3 linked regions of the Homo sapiens genome follow. The protein of the gene in region 2 interacts with the protein of the main gene of each other region in a pairwise test. Each region holds a gene or a part of one and is shown on either strand. Other genes may lie near its edges.

What was found.
Region 1: the proteins of DEF6 (region 2) and L3MBTL3 interact in binary tests that used the Homo sapiens proteins (3 or more experiments, as listed by UniProt).
Region 3: the proteins of DEF6 (region 2) and CDC42EP1 interact in binary tests that used the Homo sapiens proteins (3 or more experiments, as listed by UniProt).

The regions. Positions count from the first base shown.
Region 1 is NC_000006.12:130,063,522-130,070,633, forward strand, and holds part of L3MBTL3 (lethal(3)malignant brain tumor-like protein 3), read left to right. Parts: intron 1-2,831; coding exon 2,832-2,967; intron 2,968-4,808; coding exon 4,809-4,900; intron 4,901-7,112. UniProt on the Homo sapiens protein: Is a negative regulator of Notch target genes expression, required for RBPJ-mediated transcriptional repression. It recruits KDM1A to Notch-responsive elements and promotes KDM1A-mediated H3K4me demethylation.
Region 2 is NC_000006.12:35,300,818-35,307,929, forward strand, and holds part of DEF6 (differentially expressed in FDCP 6 homolog), read left to right. Parts: intron 1-7,112.
Region 3 is NC_000022.11:37,563,411-37,569,948, reverse strand, and holds the end of CDC42EP1 (cdc42 effector protein 1), read right to left. Parts: intron 3,878-6,538; 5' UTR 3,600-3,877; coding exon 3,137-3,599; intron 1,842-3,136; coding exon 1,129-1,841; 3' UTR 544-1,128; downstream 1-543. UniProt on the Homo sapiens protein: Probably involved in the organization of the actin cytoskeleton. Induced membrane extensions in fibroblasts.

The sequences.
Region 1 (7,112 bases), about 95 Mb from region 2:
AAATAGAGGGTTAGCTTCCTGTGAGCCTCTGGTCACATTTTTGTCTACTGATCAGTGTGTAACCTTGTTTTATGTGTGTTTCTGTTTAAAGACACCTCATTTAATGTATATCGTTCATTCATTAAAAATTGAACTCACAAGTAAGAGCACTATCACTCCTGCCTGATGAAGCTTATCTAGCACAAGTATCTTCTCTGTAAGGCAACATCACAACCTTTTGGCACTTAGGGACACTAAACAACACCTCAGCACTATGTCAGGGGCCATTTTAAACAGTAACATCACCCAAGAAAAGCACAAAAATGTAGAATATGTGGCACTAAATGGACCACACAAAAGACACTTATTCCCAGTACGAGAACTGAAACAGGAAGGTAAAGCTCCTTCTTGATTGACTTCAGCTGGGAACATGCATGTTGAGTGACTCAAAAGTGTTGTCAGTCTGTGCATGTCCACGAACACTGCGAGTATTATTTTGGGGTTACAAATAAATTGTAGCAAGTAGATGACTTCACAAACGTGGAATACAGTATGTGAATAATGAAGACTGGCGGTATGTCATTTTTTCCTTCCCATCACCATTTACTAGACTTGGTTAGGTGGAGACAAGATGGATACCTGAAATGATAGAATGTCACCAGGCAAATATTTTGCAAAGGATATCAGGGCAGAAATTTTAAAATGTTGGCAAGAAAATGTTTTTTAAATGATTGCTAGGAAAGGAAGGCTTGGGGTGAGGAGAGCTGCTAGGGAGGAAGTAAAAGGATCAGTGTGAGACTAGAGTTTCTGTTGAGATTGAGGAAGAGGCATCTGGGGGTAACTGGGTTTGCAGACTGGAATAGGAGTATGTGTCCCAGGGTTGGATTTTTAAATTTAATACTAAGAAGCAGAGCAGTTCTTGTTGGGGACTAGATTCATGGGAGTGAGGGCTTGAAGTAGAGAGGAAGGGAGTCAAAATGCCAGGGTATTGGATAAGTCATCCATATGGATGACGAAAGTACTCAGATGGAAAGGAAGAGAATAAGCCAGGGCTAAGTGTTTGGGTGGTTAGCATGGGGGAAGAAGAGGAGGAGAGTTGCTTCAGCCATATGGCTCGAGCCTCGGCAGGGGAGAACTGGCCTAGGATCCATGGTGTGGTGGGAGGCAGCAACCCGTCCTGTGTCTATGGGAGGTAGAGTTGGGAACATGAGCACCCTTGGGGAAAGGCTTGAGAAGGACGAGCTAGGTATGACTGTGGGCAAGGAGGGTGAGGATGTAGGAGATTGTTTCTCAAAGCATAGCTTTCCGGTGAGCCTGAGATAGAGACTATGGGGAGAACAGAGAGAGCTTGGCTCAAGGGAGCAGAAGCTCAGAACGGTGTGCCCACAAGGAACTAGAGGCTGTAAATTACTATAGGGCTGAGCTCTTAGGATCGGCCAGATATAGCTGACTGTGAGAGAGAGGAGAGAAGCAGCCTTCTTTGCATGGGGTGGCTGTAGGGAGTGGGGGTAGCTCCTGCTTTACCTGAGAGATTGTATTTCCCAGGGATTCCAGTCTCAGCTGTATGGAGAGACTCTGTTCTCTCTGGGGGGAGTCAGCTTAGTTGTAAATTTGATGTATGTGGTATATCAATACATTCTAATTGAAAAAATGCTGATACATAAAAGAAAATATGAAAAGTCCATCATTCCCATTTTGCCCCTTCCTTTTCACTACCACTTCCTAGAAGAAATCATTATTAACATTTTGGCAAATATACCTCCGGACTTCTTTTTACTATGTGTTTACATATGTATGCATATGTGTGTATATTAATGTATGTATATAAATGCATATACTTATGTATATACACATAATACACATATGTATACATAATCATATACCCATAAATACATGTGGACCCCCACATGTCTAATTTTCTCATAAACTTAACTCATTCTGTGTTATGTGTTCTACCACTTGAATTTTAACTATATGTTTTAGAGAACTTTCCATGACAGTAACTGTACAGCTACCTCACTATTTGAGGATTAATTGCCCTGGCTCTGCACTCTGGTCTAAGTTCATCATTCAGGGTTCTGCAGGACAGACACTCCTGGAGCGGGTAGAGGTCTGGCGTGATACGTGTTTCTACTTGAACACATCTTCTTGTGTTAGTGGGAAGAAGTCTCAGGGGCTGAACCCTCTCTCTAAGAATCCAGGGCAGGGTATGATCCAACTCAGGTCTCGTAAGCCTATATGACCTTCTAAATCAGAATGTCTCTAAGTGGGGCCCTGTAGGCATATGTATGGCATGTGTTATACAGAGTACATTCTTACTAGCATTCTTAGGAGCCTGTCTCATCCAAGTAATAAACTAGGAGAGACGCTTTTCTTTCTTTCTTCCAACCCAGCTTTGGTGGAGAAAAAAAGCTTGACTTCTGTGCATATGCACCAGCTGTGGTCTGCAGCCTTCAGTGCAGGGCAGACTGTCCACTCTGGGGCCATGCTAGAGCTGAGTGTGCTGTGCTGGTGTGCCTTCCAGCTTACCCTGGGGACACATCTTGGTACAACATAGGGAGTGGAGAAAGGACCTGCAATTGTGGGATATTATGCTTTGCCCCCTATCCGTGTGGTTGTAATGTAACTGAGAATGTTGCCAGAATGCCACAGCTCAGCTCTTCCCACTTTAATAGCTTTTGTCTTTAGATTCTGGTTATTTGTTTAGTTGTTTTATTACTGTTAATGTGGGTGGTTTGATTAACATTAAGACTATATCATGCCTGGTGTCCATGTTTATTTTTGTGTATATATATATATATATGAATATTCTGAGTTAAAAAAAATAATTCAACCTATTTTACCTGTTTCAGGTTTGTGGATACCGGATAAAGCTTCACTTTGATGGGTATTCTGATTGCTATGACTTCTGGGTGAATGCAGACGCTCTGGATATCCACCCAGTTGGGTGGTGTGAGAAAACCGGCCACAAACTCCATCCTCCAAAAGGTTTTGTCACTTTTTGTTTGATATTTTAAATTCAGTAAAAACTCATTTTCTTACATGCTACATTAGAATTGTTAAGAATTCAGACTTTATGAAAATTCAGATAGGCACAAATTTAACCTTATTGTTTATGATGAAACCATGTTTATTAAAGTTAAAGAAATAAAAGCAGAATCCAGCCTAGGAAAATAAAGTATGTTCATATGCTTATTTTCATGTAAAATAACATTTGCATGATACTCAACTTTGACTACAAATAATGTTTACCTGCAAATTTCTATTATTAAATACATACATCTTTGAAAAAACTGATTTGAAAAATTAGTTTAAATTAGTTTATATAACTAAGTTTAGTGTTAACTGGTTTAAACTAATTTTTCAAATCAGTTTTTCATTATATAGAAAATCCTGAGAAATTATGCTTGACCGTATAGATCTTAATATTTAGGAGATTGGCAAGAAGACTGTAACACTAAAAATTGGCTTAGGTGGGGGGTTGAACTCATAGCAATTACTTTTCTTATATTTGAGTACTTTATATTATAGTCCCCCAGTGATTTTCCTATTTCATGTTTATATCAAAGTTCAAGAATAACAGATATCGTCTTTTTCACTGTCTGCCTAAAGTATTCCCTAATTTTTTTTTGAGACGGAGTCTTGCTGTGTCGCCCAGGTTGCAGTGCAGTGGTGTGATATTGGCTCACTGCAGCCACTGCCTAGCAGGTTCAAGTGATTCTCCTACCTCAGCCTCCCGAATAGCTGGGATTACAGGTGCCTGCCACCATGCCTGGCTGATTTTTGTGTTTTTATTAGAGACAGAGCTTCACCATGTTGGCCAGGCTGGTCTCAAACTTCTGGCCTCAAGTGATCTGCCCACCTTGGCCTCCCAAAGTGCTGGGATTACAGGTGTAAGCCACCGTGCCCGGCCATATTTAGTAATATCTTATTCCCTTCTATTTCAATCATTACATTGATTTTTGTTTATGTCAAAAATTCAGGTTACTGGGTTGATATTTTTGGCCTGTCTCAGGGCTTTAATGCATTAGCCATCCCTTTGTTTTAAGTGAAAAAATAATGGCAGAGTGGTATTTTCAGATAGCTGAAGGATTCAACAAAATAGCATAGAAAAAGTGAGGGTGAAAAAGAAAATCTGTAAGCCTTTTCACGAATTGATCTCTTATATATGGTAAATTATTAGCTGGTTTTTTCATGCTGCTTTCTGGACTTTAATGAATGTAAAATAAAGCATATTCGCAGATAAAATAAGATGCTCAATTTCCTTTTTAAAGGAAATGTTAACTTCAATGAAATTGTAAAAATTAAGGGGAGGACATTTCCCTTATTGTAATTTGCCAGCATCCTTACTTCATAAACCTTAAATTGTCCTTCTTGAAGTGATAGGCCAAAAAGATTTTACCTGTTTCATTTCTATTATTTCCACCTTTCCACTTGTTCCTATAAGTTAGTCTTCCCAAAATAGACTAGGTGAGAGAAAAATAAAGAATTTTGACTATTGTAGTTCAGTATCTATACCGCTGAGGAATTCTACCTAAATACTGGTACAAATACCCTGATAATAAGTGTCCTGGGTATAATACATATTTGTTTCCTTATTCCTTTTCTTTATATCCATTACCATTCATTCAGAATTGGAAAATAATAATACAGTTTGTTGAAAATAAACATAGTCTAAATATGCATAGTTATGAATTATGAGTTAAATTTTGTTTATTTAAAAAGTCATTTGATTGATTTTGGCATGTTAGAGATAAAAGTGGGACTGGAAAACTAAGTGTAAAATATTGTGGTATTTGAATCAATCTGTTCATATGTGCTTACTCTAGGGTATAAAGAAGAAGAATTCAATTGGCAGACCTATCTTAAGACATGTAAAGCTCAAGCTGCTCCTAAGTCATTATTTGAAAATCAGAATATAGTAAGTACATACGAAACACGTTTTCTTTCAAAGGAAGAAGTTTTTTGAGTGTCTCATAGGATCAATTACAAGTGATAACAAGGAACTATAATAAATTTTATCGCCTTGGTAAATAGAGTACTCTTATCTTAATTAAAGTTTAAAATTAGCTTAAAATCTTCATGAACAAATATGTTTTATAGCCATATTATGGTTGTCTCTTTTATTGCATAGTAGAAGACAAGATAGTACAAGATTCAGGTGAGATTTACAATTAAGATGCATAAAAAATTAAATTGGCTGAGATATTTTATTGTTATTATCACTTATATGGGAGTGCTGTTCAAATGGGATTCACATAGCCAGATGAAGGTAGCCCTGTTTCAGTTTACATGTAGGAGGTCACTGGAGACTGTGACATATCTTCACTCTAGCTTATAGCTTTGTTTACAGTAAACAAAAACAAAATCTGGATGTGCGTGTCTTTTCTACTTGACCGGTATTCCTGCTTTCCATAACATGTTCCTCCATTGGCCGACTTGATCCATGACATTTTTCTTTTCCCAAGTTCTGATCTAATTGGAAAGAATAAAGGGCAAGCCAGTGGAAAACCAAAATGCCATCTTTACAGATGGTCAGAGCTGAGTTGGAGGACGTGCATGGCTTGTATCTGCAGACAAATAAGCTTGATTCTGAGCCCTAGAATGGAAGAGATTTAATTCGCCTTTCACGCCCATCCCCCAAGCCTGGAGAACACTAGACCCTTGAGGAGCAGAGTGGAAACTGTGCACCCTGCAGCCCAGCTTTCTCTCTAGTATGATCAGTTCCTCCTTTCCAGAGTCACCAGGCTGGTAGCAGTGAGTGAGACAGTGGGGAGAAGCAGTAATGTTTCACTAACAGCATTCCCTTCAAATGGAAATAAATAAATATCAAGAGCAGGAGAAACCTCCTCACTCCAAAAATCCTTCATTTGGGAAACAGTGTTAACCAGTTGGTTTGAGAGCATCAATCTAATGGCTGAAATGTTTTCTGATTTAATCAAACACAAACCAGGTTGGATTACAGAACTGACACATTGTGTTTGTGTGCATGCGTATGTGTGTTTAGGTTAGTAATAGTGTTAATGGGCCAGCTTATTATTTTAAAACATCTTAATTGAGAGGATAGTGTAATTGCCAAAGTGTAACAGTGCATTGTCAGTTGGTATTCTCTGTCAAAACTTATCCCAGGGAGGAAGGTCAGTTGGGTGGAAAACTTAGCAGCCTGCTGTCTCTGCTCCAAGTTTCCTAATCCCTGTCTGGTTCTCTGATGATGACTTCAGTCAGGGATTTGATTAACTGCCTTGAACGGTCTTCCTAAATTCTATGCATTGCCAGCATACAACTTAATCTTGGGCTCTCCATTTCGTATCTAAGAGACAATTAATTTTTCCATTTCTAGATTACCTCAGAATACTCAAACATTTATGATCAGAACTCGGATAAATTTCAGTACTTAAATGCATAGTAAAGATTTCTGTATAGCATTAGTGCCTGTTCTATCCATTCAGACACAACTTATTCTAACATTTTCAGATACACGGCTGTCTACATTTTTGCAATGATAGTTGTATAATTATAGTAAAATGAGAGATAGCATTTATTTTGCCTAAAGTAGTTAGAATAATATCTGTATAATTGAGTCTAACAGAGGTTTTTGTTTGTTTTTTGTTTTTTGTTTTGTTTTGTTTTGTTTTTAGGGAAGGAATGACTTGTAGTGTGTTGTGATTTGCATAATTGGTATCTAGATATACTAGTCTATAATATGTAGAGATAGATAGATTAAGATATTATTCCTCACAAAAGATTGTAAGAGATTTTATATATTACTGTACCTTAAGCACTAACTCTTACAGAACTTTCATTGTTTTTGTTCCATGTTCTGAATGACTGGTTATCTGTGGATTTCTTTAAGTTACCAACTATTTTGAATAGCTTTGTACATCAACAGCCAATTCTTTTGCTGCTATTAGGAATAAAATATATCTGTAGTGTTGAGTAAAAGTTGTAATAATTTGCAGCCTTTCATATATGAAGATGACCTACTTTCGAGAGTACTCTTTTGAGAGATATTTTCGGAAGTGGGAGTGAATTTGTACTGACTCATGCACATTTTTAACTTGATTAAGTGCATATTTTGTGTGAATAATTTTCATTGTTAAGTCTGTAATCAAGAAAAGAAGGATAAAATGTGA
Region 2 (7,112 bases):
CCTTGGGAATGATGTGTGTCCTACTGAACACACCCTCTTACCCAGGGGAGCAGTTTTGATTTTAGAACTAGTGGAGGATCAGCTGATAATTTGGCCTCCTTCCCCACTGACTATCAGGCAGTGGGGTGAAGGGGTATGTAGATGGAGCAGTGTGTCTCTGGTTTGATGAGGATCTTTGGGTGGCACCAGGCCTACCACTTCCTCCTTGACTGGCAGGAGCTGGGGGAAGGGAGGGAGGGTAGACAGGGGCCTTCCAGTCTCCTGCACCTCCAGCTGATATTCAGGGCAGTCCTGGAGCCCAGAGTGAGACTCTTGCCCACTGAGAATCAATGAGCTTCAGGTTTTGCCTCCTCTGGAGAGGGACAACCACCTTCTCCTTAGTGGAGGAAAAGTTAAGAACAGCTCCAGTCCAAAAACCTGCTGGCTGGCTAGGATCATTAGCTTTGTCCTGACCCCTGTGTGCTACTGGTCTCCCCAGGCTAGGATTTGTGGGTAGGGAGGGGAGGATGATTTAATGATGTGCAGAGCACTTGACTCAGAACCACGCAGGCTTGGATCCGTACTGCTCCCCATCTGGGTGACTTTAAGCAAGTCACTGTCCATCTTCAGTTTCTCATCTATAAACCAGGGGGTTGATCACCAAGCTGTCCTACAAAACTAAAGAATAAATTCTGTACCTCAAGTAGGTAAAATTGGTCTATGATGCAGCCTCTCCTTTCCCTTAACTGGGCCTCTGTCTCCTTTGATGCCCACACCCAACCCCTACAGCCCCTTCTTGCTCTCAGCAGGTGACACAGCTAATCCAAAGATTCCCACCTTTTAAAATTTCCAGTGTTCCTCCATGATAGTAGTTATGCTTTTCTAGTAACCCACTAGAATACATTTGGTAACTCTTAAAAGGAGCTGTGTCTTTTTTTTTTTTTTTTTAAGACAGAGTCTTGCTCTGTCACCCAGGTTGGAGTATAGTGGTGCAATCTCAGCTCACTGCAACCTCCACCTCCCAGGTTCAAGTGATTCTCCTGCCTCAGCCTCCCAAGTAGCTGGAATCACAGGTGCCCACCACCACGCCCAGCTAATTTTTGTATTTTTAGTAGAGCCGGGGTTTTGCCATGTTGGCCAGGCTGGTCTTGAACTCCTGACCTCAGGTGATCCACCTGCCTTGGCCTCCCAAAGTGCTGGGATTACAGGCGTGAGCTACTGCACCTGGCTGGATCTGTGTCTTTTAAAAGGATCACTTGGAACCTAGATTCATTTAAAGACCTTGCTGGGCAAGGTGGCTCACATCTGTAATCCCAGCACTTTGGGAGGCCATGGCAAGAGAATCACTTGAGTCCAGGAGTTTGAGACCAGCCCTGGCAGCATAGCAAGACCCCAACTCTACAAAAAATGAAAAAAATTAGGCATGATGGCTCCTGCCTATAGTTCCTGCTACTCTGGAGGCTGAGGTGGAAGGATCGCTTGAGCCCGAGAGGTCAAGGCTTCAGTGAGCCATGGTTATACCACTGCATTCCAGCCTGGGCAATAGAGTGAGATTCTTTCTTAAAAAAAAAAAGTCAATTTAGGAGAGAATTCTTTCTGAAATCATTGCTGGGTGCTTTTATGGATTCCCAAACCCTGGGGATCCTGAAGGCTGGAAACTACAGAATCAGTTCTTGCTGACTGTTGCCAACATGGACCTGACACCCACACTTGAGTTTTTAGGATCCCCAATCCCCACACTTGAGTTTTAGAGGATCCCCCAAGTCCTGAGAGGAGAACTACTCCCCTACATGCCTCCAGAGGAAAGAGTGAATAGATGAAGCATCTCAAAGGTCAGTGACTGCCAACTCAGAGGCCAGAGGCTCCCTGGGTTTGTGGAGACTGTGGGAGTCCTCTCTGAGGAAACCCAAATGGCAACTTGTGAAAAATACACCTGGACCCCACCCCTGGAAACTCTGAGTCAGTAGGTCTGGGCTGGGCGGGCATGTTTCAGTTTCACCAGTTCTCTGGGTGATTGTGGTGCTCAGCCAGGGCCAGTGCACTGTAGAGATCAAGAGCAGGGCTTTGGAGTCAGACCTTGGGCAAGACGCTTCCTCTCTCTGAGCCTTGATTTCCTCATCTCTAAAATGAGGATAATGAGAGTCCCCTGATCCAGGGCTGAGGACTGATGGAGATCTGCAAGTGAGCTCCTGCTCACAACTCCTCTGTCACTGCCATTTCCTTTGCAGCATGACCCCTCCCCTAGTCACACCCTCTCTCCACCCCCAACCCCTACCGCACCCAGGCACAGGAAGCTGACAGTCTGAGGTCGGCCCAGCTCTCTGGAGAGAGGCCCTGAGTGTCTGGGCATTTAATTCTTCCTTGTCCTACTATCTGACAGCACGCGGGGGTCAGAGTCTCTGCCCTGGGTTCTTCAGGATCCAATGGCAAAAGTGCAGGTGAGGTGCAGGTCTTAGGGACAGTACAGGGCGACAGAACTAAGCTCAAATAACTGTGCTGTTATGTGGCAGGTTCTGTCCTGGGTCGGGGAGGGCATTCATAGGTCCTCTCCTAAGACTCCCTTTTTAGAGAGATGAAAACTGAAGCCCAGTAAGGTTAATATGCTCACTGGGATTTAGTCAATCTCTGTCTGGCTTTTGTATTTTGTCTGCTTCTTCCCATGAAGTGTTTAAGTTCATTCAAGAGATACTTAATGAGCATCCATTAGGTGCCAGGCCCCGTGATACCACAGTGAAAAAAACGCAAATGTTTCTACCCTTGTGGTGCTGACATTCTAGTCAGAGGAGGCAGATAATAAACTAAATGAAATGTACAATATGATGAAAGATGATACATGACATGGAAGAAAATAAAGCAGAAATGGGTAGGGATCATGGAGGTCAGGCAGGATTGGGTTACAGGTTTAAATAAGGTGATCAGGCCGGGCAGGGTAGCTCACACCTGTAATCTCAGCACTTTGGGAGGCTGAGGCGGGTGGATCGCTTCAGCCCAGGAATTCAAGACCAACCTGGGCAACATAGTGAAAGCCCGTCCCTACAAAAGATAGAAAAATTAGGCCCAGCACGGTGGCTCTTGCCTGTAATCCCAGCACTTTGGGAGGCCGAGGCGGGTGGATCACCTAAGTCAGGGGTTCGAGACCAGCCTGGCCAACATGTTGAAACCCCATCTCTACTAAAAATACAAAAATTAGCTGGATGTTGGTGGCAGGCACCTGTAATCCCAGCTACTCAGGAGGCTGAGGCAGGAGAATTGCTTGAACCCGGGAGGCAGAGGTTACAGGGAACTGAGATCACACCATTGCACTCCAGCCTGGGCACAAGAGCAAAACTACATTGCAAAAAAAAGAAAACACACACACACATATACACACAAAAATTAGCCGGGTGTGATGGCGCACGCCTACAGTTCCAGCTACTCAGGAGGCTGATATGGGAAGATCACCTGAGCCAGGGCGGTCGAGGCTGCAGTGAGCTGTGATTGTGCCACTACACTTCAGCCTGGGCAACAGAGTGAGACCCAGTCTCAAAAGATAAGGTGATCAGAGGATATTCCACCTGGTCAGGGAATATATATTCCCTGAGAAGGTGTCATCTAAGTAAAAACAGGGAGGAGGAAAGGGTTTGAGCCATGCAGTGACCTGGAGAGAAATATTCCAGGCTGCAGGAACAGTAAGTGCAAAGGCCCTTGGGCAAGAATATGCCTGACCTGCTGGAGGAACATTAAGAAGGCAGAATGGCTGGAGGCAAGTAAACAAGAGGGATGAGGTCAGAGAAGGTGCAGCAGGCCAGGTCACATGGGGCCTGGAGGCCTGTGGAAGGACTCGAACTTTTACTCTGAAAATTATGGGAAACCATTGGAGCATTTGAGTTAGACTTTAGGAGTCAGTCAGAAACATTCAGTGAATGGGGGACATTATACTATCTTTGGAGTCAAGGTTGAGATTAGAGTCATTGCTGCCCTCAAGGAATGTAGAACACCCAGAAATGCTCACACAAACAGTGAACAGCAAAAGAATATTATTATAGAGCAACTTAATAGGGCAAATTAATAACTGGGTTAATGGCACCCTTTTTCATCCCTATTGTTTTAAATTTTATCCTAAAGACAATATATTCTCCTGGTTTAAAAAAAGAAAACACACAGAAGAATATAATGTTAATGAAGAAATTCGGGGCTGCGCTGTGGTAGCTCATACTTGTAATCCCAACACTTTAGGAGGCCGAGGCAGGAGGATCTCTTGAGCCCAGGAGGGCTCTTCCTGCCTCGGCCTCCTAAAGCATTGGGATTACAGGTATGAGCCACCATGGCCTGGGCAATATAATGGGAACTCATCTCTATGAAAAAAAAGAATTTTTTTTTTTTTTTTCCAGACAGGGTCTGGATCTGTCACTCAGGCTGGAGTTCAGTGGCACGATCTCAGCTCACTGCAGCCTTGACTTCCTGGGCTCAAGCAATTCTCCCACCTCAGCCTCCTGAGTAGCTGGGACTACAGGAGTGTGCCGCCACACCCGGCTAATTTTGGTATTACAAAAAAATTTTTTAACTTAGCTGAGCATGGTGACACATGCCTGTAGTCCCAATTACTCGGGAGGTTGAAGTGGGAGGATCGCTTGAGCCTGGGAGGCGGAAGCTGCAGTGAGCAGAAATCGTGACACTGCACCCCAGCTTAGGCAACAGAGTGAGACCCCGTCTCTAAATAAATAAACAAAAATAAAAATGAATTTATTATAAAATTAAAACATGTTAGTGGTAATTTTTTTTTTGTGGGGGTGTGTGTGTGTATGTGTGTGTGTGACAGAGTCTCACTCTGCCACCCAGGCTGGAGTGCAGTGGCACTATCCTTCCTGGCTCACCTCAACCGCCACCTCCCAGGTTCAAGCAATTCTCCTGCCTCAGCCTCCCTGTAACTGGGATTACAGCCGCCTGCCATCACACCCAGCTAATTTTTGTATTTTTAGTAGAGATGAGGTTTCGCCATGCTGGCCAGGCTGGTGTTGAACTCCTGACCTCAAGTGATCCGCCCACCTGGGCCTCCCAAAGTGCTGGGATTACAGGTGTGAACCACTGCGCCTGGCCAAATTTGTTTTTTTGTTTTTGTTTTTGTTTTAATTTTTAGATGGAGTTTCACTCTTGTTGCCCAGGCTGGGGTGCAATGGCACAATCTCGGCTCACTGCAACCTCTGCCTCCTGGGTTCAACTGATTCTCCTGCCTCAGCCTCCCAAGTAGCTGGGATTATAGGCGCCTGCCACAATGCCTGGCTAATTTTTAGTATTTTTAGTAGAGACAGGGTTTCAACATGTTGGTCAGGTGGGTCTCGAACTCCTGACCTCAGGTGATCCACCTGCCTCGGCCTCCCAAAGTGCTGGGATTACAGGCGTGAGCCCCTGCACCCGGCCCAAAAAAATTTTGAAGTAAAGAAGAATATAATGTTGGCCGGGCGCGGTGGCTCATGCCTGTAACCCCAGCACTTTGGGAGGCCGAGGCGGGCGGAACACCTGAGGTCAGGAGTTTGAGACCAGCCTGGTCAACATGGCAAAACCCCGTCTCTACTAAAAATACAAAAATTAGCCAGGCATGGTGGCGGGCGCCTGTAATCTCAGCTCTTCGGGAAGCCGAGGAAGGAGAAGCACCTGAACCCGAGAGGCAGAGGTTGCGGTGAGCCGAGATCACGCCATTGCACTCCAGCCTGGGCAACAAGAGTGAAATTCTGTCTTAAAAAAAAAAAAAAGATGAAAGTTTCTCCCCTCACTCTGGAGAGGTGATCACTGTTAACAGTTTGTGAGTCTTCTAGATTCTTTCTGTATACAAATAAACAGGTTGAACCATATGAAATTTCTGACACTTGATTGTTTTGACCTACTGAAATACTAGTTTCATATAATTCGACCTAATCTTTGCACATGTATTTGACAAACATTTCATTCTGTAGCTTGCTTTTTTTACATGCCAGTGTAGTATGCATATCTTTCAATGTCTGTTCATATAAACATAACAAAGATCACCCACAACTTTTATTAAGCAGTGCACTATGCACCAGGTACTCTTCACTCAAAACAGCCTTTGGAGCAGACCCTATCATTATCCTCACAGAGGAGGAGACTAAGGTGTTGGAGAATTAAACATTTGCCCATGAGCACACAAGTGGGAAAAGTGAAATCTTTCCAGCTACATACAGTGGTTCCTGACATGGTATACCTGTTTCCTACTGGAAGAGCCTCAGTTTGTCTCCATTTTTTCATATTATAAACAATGCTTAATGAGCATTCTTGTATCTCTCCCATGAGTGTCTGTAGGTTGGATGATTAGAAATGCTGGGGTGGCCGGGCGCAGTGGCTCACGCCCTGTAATCCCAGCATTTTGGGAGGCCGAGGCGGGCAGATCTCCTGAGGTCAGGAGTTTGAGACCAGCCTGGCCAACATAGCGAAATTCCATCTCTACTAAAAATACAAAAATTAGCCGAGCATAGTGGCACGCGTCAGCAATCCCAGCTACTCAGGAGGCTGAGGCAGGAGAATCACGTGAACCTGGGAGGCGGAGGTTGCAGTGAGCCAACACCGCGCCACTGCGCTCTAGCCTGGGCGGCAGATTTGGAACGCGTCTCAAAAAAAGATAAGGACACGGGTAGTTTGAAAAGAGGCCAAGAGACAGCAGATGAGAATATATAAAACTTGAACACTTGTCACTTCAGAAGTGGTCAGTGGATGTTGGCATTATTCTCTTGAGGTGGTCACCCTGGGTTTTAAGTGCTAGGCATTGAGCCAGTGGCACCCCTTAGAGTGGGGATTGGTATTCTATGACCACAGATGTGTTAGGCAAGACTTTCCTGGAATTAGTGATAAAACCAAACTCAAATGGCTTAAGGGAGAGGGGATTTATTGGCTCACATAACCAAAAACTCCAGGGATAACTGCCCAGAGGGAAATGAGGGAAAAAAAGGAAATACTCCCTTCCTGGGATCTCCCACTTCCCAGTTTGCCAAGGAAAACTGAGCCCCAGGAGGACACTGAGGCAAAGTCTCAATACTTTCTCCCCCTCCTCTCTGAAAAGAGAATAAAATGAAGGCTTGGCACACACACCATCTCCGAGACAGTGCTAGCTCCTGCCTCCTAGGAACTGATTCCAAGGTGAACTG
Region 3 (6,538 bases), on a different chromosome or scaffold from region 2:
CACATCCTCTGGTTGCATACCTGTAGTGACAGGGAGTGCACCACCTCACGTTAGCTGTTTGTGGCTAAATTTAACCGGTCTTCCGATACCTAAGGAGGGCATTTCTCTTTCCGTGCATTTTAATGCTCCTGGCATTTTCATAATACTGAGGAGGAAACAGATATGAGGACACCCGGCTGCCATGTTGGGAGGCTGAGACATGCTCCCAACAGTCCTACGCACTTGCTTCTGTCTACTTGCCCCCACTATCGCCAGAGCAAATGCCATGCTGCCCTGTGGGATTATGGGGCAGACACGAGTCCCAGGCACCTGGGCCAGGGGCTGTTCCCGGAACTGCAGATAAGGGCTCCCACCTGGGCCTCTTATCTCAGGGGCGTTCCAGCCTGGTTACTCATTACCCTCCCCTTGGCGCGTCCACTTCCCTTCCCTGCTGGGGGCCTTGATGGGGGATCCTTGGCTTTCTAAACTCCCTGGAGGGGAGGGGACTGAAGCAGACAGAGCTGATGCTGTTGTCCCAGGTCCCCAAGCATCTTGCAGGACACCTTTTATCAAAACAGCCTTATTTAATCAGGCCCCAGAGGCAAGTCTGGGGTATACAGGCAGGTGGGATTCCTCCCCGGGAGGTCATACCTGACCTTTCTGGGGTAAGAGGGAGGCTGGGGCGGGGATGTTGGGGAAGCGGCCTGGGAGACGGCTGTCAGGGTTGCAGCAGGGACGCTCTGGGATGAGCTGGGGGCAGGCGGTCCCTTTGGGAGGTGAGACAATGGCCCTGTGTGGTACACTCCCTGCCCCCCACCCCCCACGGGCCGCTTGGTCTGGCACAAAGGACACACTGTGAGGCTGGGTCCTCCAGCTGGTGGGGGTGGCATGGAGTGGGGCCTAAGGAACAGCTATTAGGTCCAGAGTGGCAGTCGGGGGAGGTGGTCAGTTTGGCAGGGCCTCTGGGAGCATAAAAGTCCCAGAGCAAGCCTGGCCTTCCCTGTCCTCCCTCCCATGTCTGTCCTGCAGAGGTGGGGAGGGGTTTAGGGGCAACATGACTTCTCCCCTCTCCGGTCTGGTAGGAACCAGCTGTTAGGTGAGGGGCCGGCTCTGCACCTAGGTGGGGCCCTGGGACCGTGCCCCAGCCCCTCACACCTTGACCTCATCATCCTCCTCAGCATCCGCAAATTCAAAGGTGTTTGCTTGCACTGTGCTGGGCACTGGGGTCCTGCTGCCTGCCTGGGGCGCCCTCCACTCTTCGTCCAGGCTCTCCCAGGAGGCCCGGGCTTGGGGCAGCACCTCCACCCGCTCCTGCCGCGCATCCATCTCTGGGTAGTGGTGGCCGCCATCCCAGCCTGCTCCCCAGTGCCTGCCGAGGGCAGGGCCAGCAGGTCCTCGGGGACCCCCTCCCACTGGGCTGGACTTCACCTCAGCCACTGGGCCCAACCCAGCTGTTACCCCATTGGGACAGTGTCCATGGGGTGTGGAGCTTGCGGCAGGGGCTGGGGGATTTGCAGCAGGACCCGTGGGGGTTGCGGCAGGTGCTGAGGGGTTTGCAGCAGGCGCTGGGGGGTTTGCAGTAGTGGCTGGGGGGTTTGCAGCAGGACCCGTGGGGTTTGCAGTAGGGGCTGGGGGGTTTGCAGCGGGGGCTGGAGTCTCAGCTGCAGGGGCTTCTGGGAGGCTCATGACCCCTAGCAGCTCGCTGAGGAGTGAGGGCCCAAGGTCGAGGTCCAGGCGGAAGGACAAGAGAGAGTCAGAGCGGCGAAGCCCGGGCTCAGAGGGGAAGGAACCATCCCGGTCTCGGTCATGCGGCTTTTCCGAGCGGGGCAGGCGGGAGATGGTGCAGAACCCAGAGTCCAGGCCTAGAAGAGAAATGGGCAGTGGGCTCAGAGCTGGGGTCCCTCACCAGGAATTCAGGAGGGGAGACAGGACCAGTCCTGGCTTGCTGTGTGGCCTCTGGCTAGTCCCTCCCCTCTCTGGCCTCGGTTTCTCCCATCTTTCCAATAGAATACACTCCATGGTCACCTGTGTGATCTTCCTGTCTACCCCGAAAGCTGAAAATCATCATTATCCTCATTTCCATTATGCAGATGGGGAAAGTGAGGCTCAGTTTGGGATGGGGCGAAGGAGCTAGCCCAAGGCCATAGAAGTCTGACGAGGTGGAATCAAGTCTGGAGCTCAAATCTCCTCTCAGTCCCAACTGTGACCTCAGCCATGGCCACCGGCTCCCTGCCATGACGCTGGCCGATGGCTGCAGGTGAACCCATAGCACGTGAGCTGGTTTGTGGACACAGGATGGGACCAGCAATCAGGGTCTGACTGTATAGAAATGAAGGACAGACATGTCCAGCCCCTGCTTCCAGGACTACAGACCTGAGACAGAATCGGGTTTCTGTGGACCAGTCCTCAGTGCGGTTCTGAGCAGCCGCCTGGGGCAGGGGTGTTAGAGCCACTCCCGCAAGGCAGGGAGTGGCCACCAGGTGGCAGCAGGGGCCCATGGTTCTCAGGTGAGCTCTGACCGAACGGCCAAGGTGGCACTTCTGGCTGGGCAGGAAGGCCTGTGGCTTGCGGTTCCTGTGAGTGGTTTCCCAAATTTGTCGAGTTACAGGAAACCAAGTTCAGATAACAACAGCTCCAGTGTCCTGAGCACCTACTAAGTATCAGCCCCCCTGCGCCTCTCCTGGCACTGAATCTTAGCAATGACCCCGAGAGACTCATTATCCAGGCGAGGACTTGAACTTATAGAGGTCAACTGACTTCCTGAAATTCAGGCAGAACTGGATTGGAATCTAGAGCCCAGGCCCTTCACCTCTCCATGATATCATTCCGACATGAGGGGAAGGCTTTGGTTGAAGGGGGCAAGAATGGGTGGGTGACTGGTTCAGCTAAGGCCCAGAGAGGGGGATGTGCTTGCCCAGGTCACACAGCAAGTGAGGGGCAGCTAGAATTCAAACTCCACCTCCTCACTCTCAACCTCAGGTGTTTTGGGGAGTCAGCTTGTTCCCACCACTGCACCCCCTCCCCATCCATGATGTGGGGTCTGGGCCTGACCTCTGTGGTCACTTGGAGCTCACTTGGAGCTTGGAGGAGCCACTGAACCCCTCTGGGCCTCAGCCTCAGCCTCTGAAAAGTGGGCCAAGATGGCCCAGGCCCTCACCGTAGCTGGAGTGGCCGTCCGTGGAGCTGGTGGGGCTGCTGTCGAAGCTGAGCTTGCCAACCACGAGGCTGTCGTAGGCGGCCTGGTTGAGCTGGGGCAGGGAGATGGCGTTCTTGATGATGGGGGAGATGGCCGGTGGAGCCGGGGAGGGTGCAGGGGGAGATGCCATCCTCCGGGGGGGCGCCCCCACCCTCCGCACCAGCTGCAGCTTCTTGGCCAGGAAGCTGCGGGGTGAGCGATGGGTGCTCCCGGAGCTGCCACCGTGGTTGCTGAGGAAGGACGTGTCCCCGAAGACATCCCCGCCACGGCCCACATGCATGGTGTGGCGGAAGTCCCCGAGTGGGTGGCTGATCATGTCTGCAGTCAGCCGCCTCTTTCCCTGTGAACTGGACACCCAGCCCACAGGCGAGAGCTTGCCCAGGCTCATGGTGGCGGCGCCTCTGCCCCCCTGGGGGCCGGGCATCAGCTCTGGCTGCTCACAGCTGCTAGTCCATGCCTACCAGGGGCCGGGGGAGGGAGGTGGGCTGGGCTTGGGATGGCTGCTCAGCTCCTTTGCCCTGGCGGAAGCTGTAAATGGCACTCTCCTAAGGTGAGGTCCCCAAATGCAGAGGCTGTGGGGGGTTCATGGCTCGTCTCTCCCAGGGGCCCGGCTCCCAGCCCCTCAGAAGCAGCTATAGATGTTCAAGCGCAGAGAAAGCACCCCCGAGGTGGTCGGCAACTCTCCTGCCCAGAGGTGGAGACCTGGAAGGAAGACAGAATGGGCGGTGACGGCAGGCCCGCGACAGAGGAGGAAATCCGGGGTCCAAACATTAGCAGCTGAAGAGGATAGATGATCACACCCAACTACACGGATGGAGGCCTCCAACTGACGCGGGGCAGAAGCTAGGCACACGGGGACCCAAGTGAGTCTGTGTATAGAAAGTTCAAGAACACAGCCGGGTGCGGTGGCTCATGCTGGTAATCCCAGCACTTCGGGAGGTTGAGGTGGGTGGCTCACCTGAGGTCAGGAGTTCGAGACCAGCCTGGCCAACATAGAGAAACCCCGTCTCTACTAAAAATACAAAACTTAGCCGGACGTGGTGGTGCGCACCTGTAATCCCAGCTACCCAGGAAGCTGTGGCAGGAGAATCACTTGAACCTTGGAGGCAGAGGTTGCAGTGAGCCAAGATCACATCACGGCACTCCAGCCTCGGCAACAAGAGCAACATTCCGTCTCAAAAAAAAAAAAAAAAAAAAAAAAAAAAACAAGGAAGTTCAGTAACAGGCAAAACCAATTGATGCTATTAGCAATCAGAATGATGGCAGCCTCTGAGCAGGTACTGACTGAATAGGGGACAAATAATTCATTGAGCTATACACTTAAGCCATGTATCAGGAAAAAATAGAAGCACTCATTCACTCATTCTAAGTCTGAGCAACATAATGAGACCTGGTTTTTACAAAAAAATTTTAAAAAAATTAGTTGGGTGTGGTGGTGTATGCCTGTGGTCCTAGCTACTCAGGAGGCTAAGAAGGGAGGATCCTTTGAGCCTAGGAGGTCAAGGCTGCAATGAGCCATGATTGTGTCACTGCACTCCAGTCTGGGAGACAGAGCAAGACCTTGTCTCAAAAAAAAAAAAAAAAAAAAGGAAAAAAAAAAGAAAGCACTTATTCTGCAGGGCCCACTTATGAAGCACTTACTAAGTGCCAAGACCTCACCCGCCTCATCGTTTAAACCCATACAATACTCCTGAGGGGCTGGGCGCGGTGGCTCACGCCTGTATTCCCAGCACTTTGGGAGGCCAAGGCGGGTGGATCACGAGGTCAGGAATTAGAGACCAGCCTGGCCAACATGGTGAAACCCCGTCTCTACCAGAAATACAAAAAATTAGCTGGGCGTAGTGGCGGGCGCCTGTAATCCCAGCTACTCAGGAGCCTGAGGCAGGAGAATTGCTTGAACCCGGGAGGCAGAGGTTGCAGTGAGCCGAGATTGCGCCACTGCACTCCAGCCTGTGCGACAGAGCGAGACTCCGTCTCACAAACAACAACAACAACAAAAACATTACTCCTGAGGGCAGCATGAGATTAGAGAGGGGAAACTGAGGCACAAAGTGACGTAACTTGCCTGAGGCTACGTAGTAAGAAATGGTGAAACAGGCCCCACATCCCAGAGCCCTGGAGCCCCAGGCTACACTGCCTCCTGCTGAGTAACTGAGTAAGTCACCTCCCTTCTCTGTGCATTAAAATCTCTGCCACGCAGCGAAGCCAGGAGGGAGCAGACACCTCACCAAAGCTTTGTGAAGCTGGGTAAACAGCCAGAGCAGAGGTTCCTCTGAACCATCCACCTTCAAGGAGCTTCCTGGAATAAGGATCCTGTGGTCAAAAGTGGCTTTTTCCAGCTGCCTCCTCCATGCGTGAGCATATTCAAGTCTCTGAGAAGGCCCGCAGGAAAAGACTTTATCACAGTTTGTCAAACTGACGTAGGAGCCTTGCTGTCAGGGAGCAAGCTTTGGAAAAAGCTCAGCTGGTGCCAAAAGCTATTTCTTGTGCATCTCTCCTTCCTGATTCCCCACCCCCACCATACACACACACACATCCTCCCCTGCTCCAGCTTCTCTAAGCATCTCTTGTTCTGACCCCTTTCCTTCTAGTGTCATACAAAGTCCAGGCTAGAGCGCACCTGTGATCCTATGCTTTTCCTGTGGCCCACTGAGGGCAAAGCTGGCTAGAGGTCAGATCCACAGAGCTAGTTGAGACTTGAACTCAGAGCCTCTGACTCACATAAGCCCTTGACTGGCTTGTGGAGCCCAGTCTCGCCTCCCGAGATCGGCAATGCACTTGGAGGGTGGGGAGGCCGCCTGGATTTTCCTGCCTTTCTCCCTTGGGCATCTAGCTTGGGCTCTGCACTTAACAAGTGCCAAATCAATGCCAGCTGAATCACAGATCTCCATGATAACCTGCATGCCAAAACATCACCCTGGCCCCTTCTGAGAGTGGGAGGGCAGGCTGGGCTCTGTGTCCTCACAATGTGACCTTGGGCAAGTCACTTACCTACACAGACCTGGGACCTCAGCTGATAAAAGTCAATAATGATCCTTAAGAACACCTATGTCTGCGGCTCAGCCTTCTTCCTTTTTTAAAACCATTGCTGCCACCTCCAAGCATAGAAATCTCAATACTGCCCTTCTAATGTTATTTGAAATTCAAAATAGGTTAAATAACAAGATAAGAACAAAGAAGCCAATAGGACAAAGCTTGCTTTGTTTTCTGACTACATTCTCTTCCCTTCCCACCATCTGATCCTCCCCCAACCCTAACTCCTCCCCCTCGTGGGGGGGAACTTCTGAATCATCTTCTTCCCTCCCTGGCACCCCCGGCACCGAGAAGTCCTCGTGGAATGTTTGCTGAAGTTCTGAAGCGATC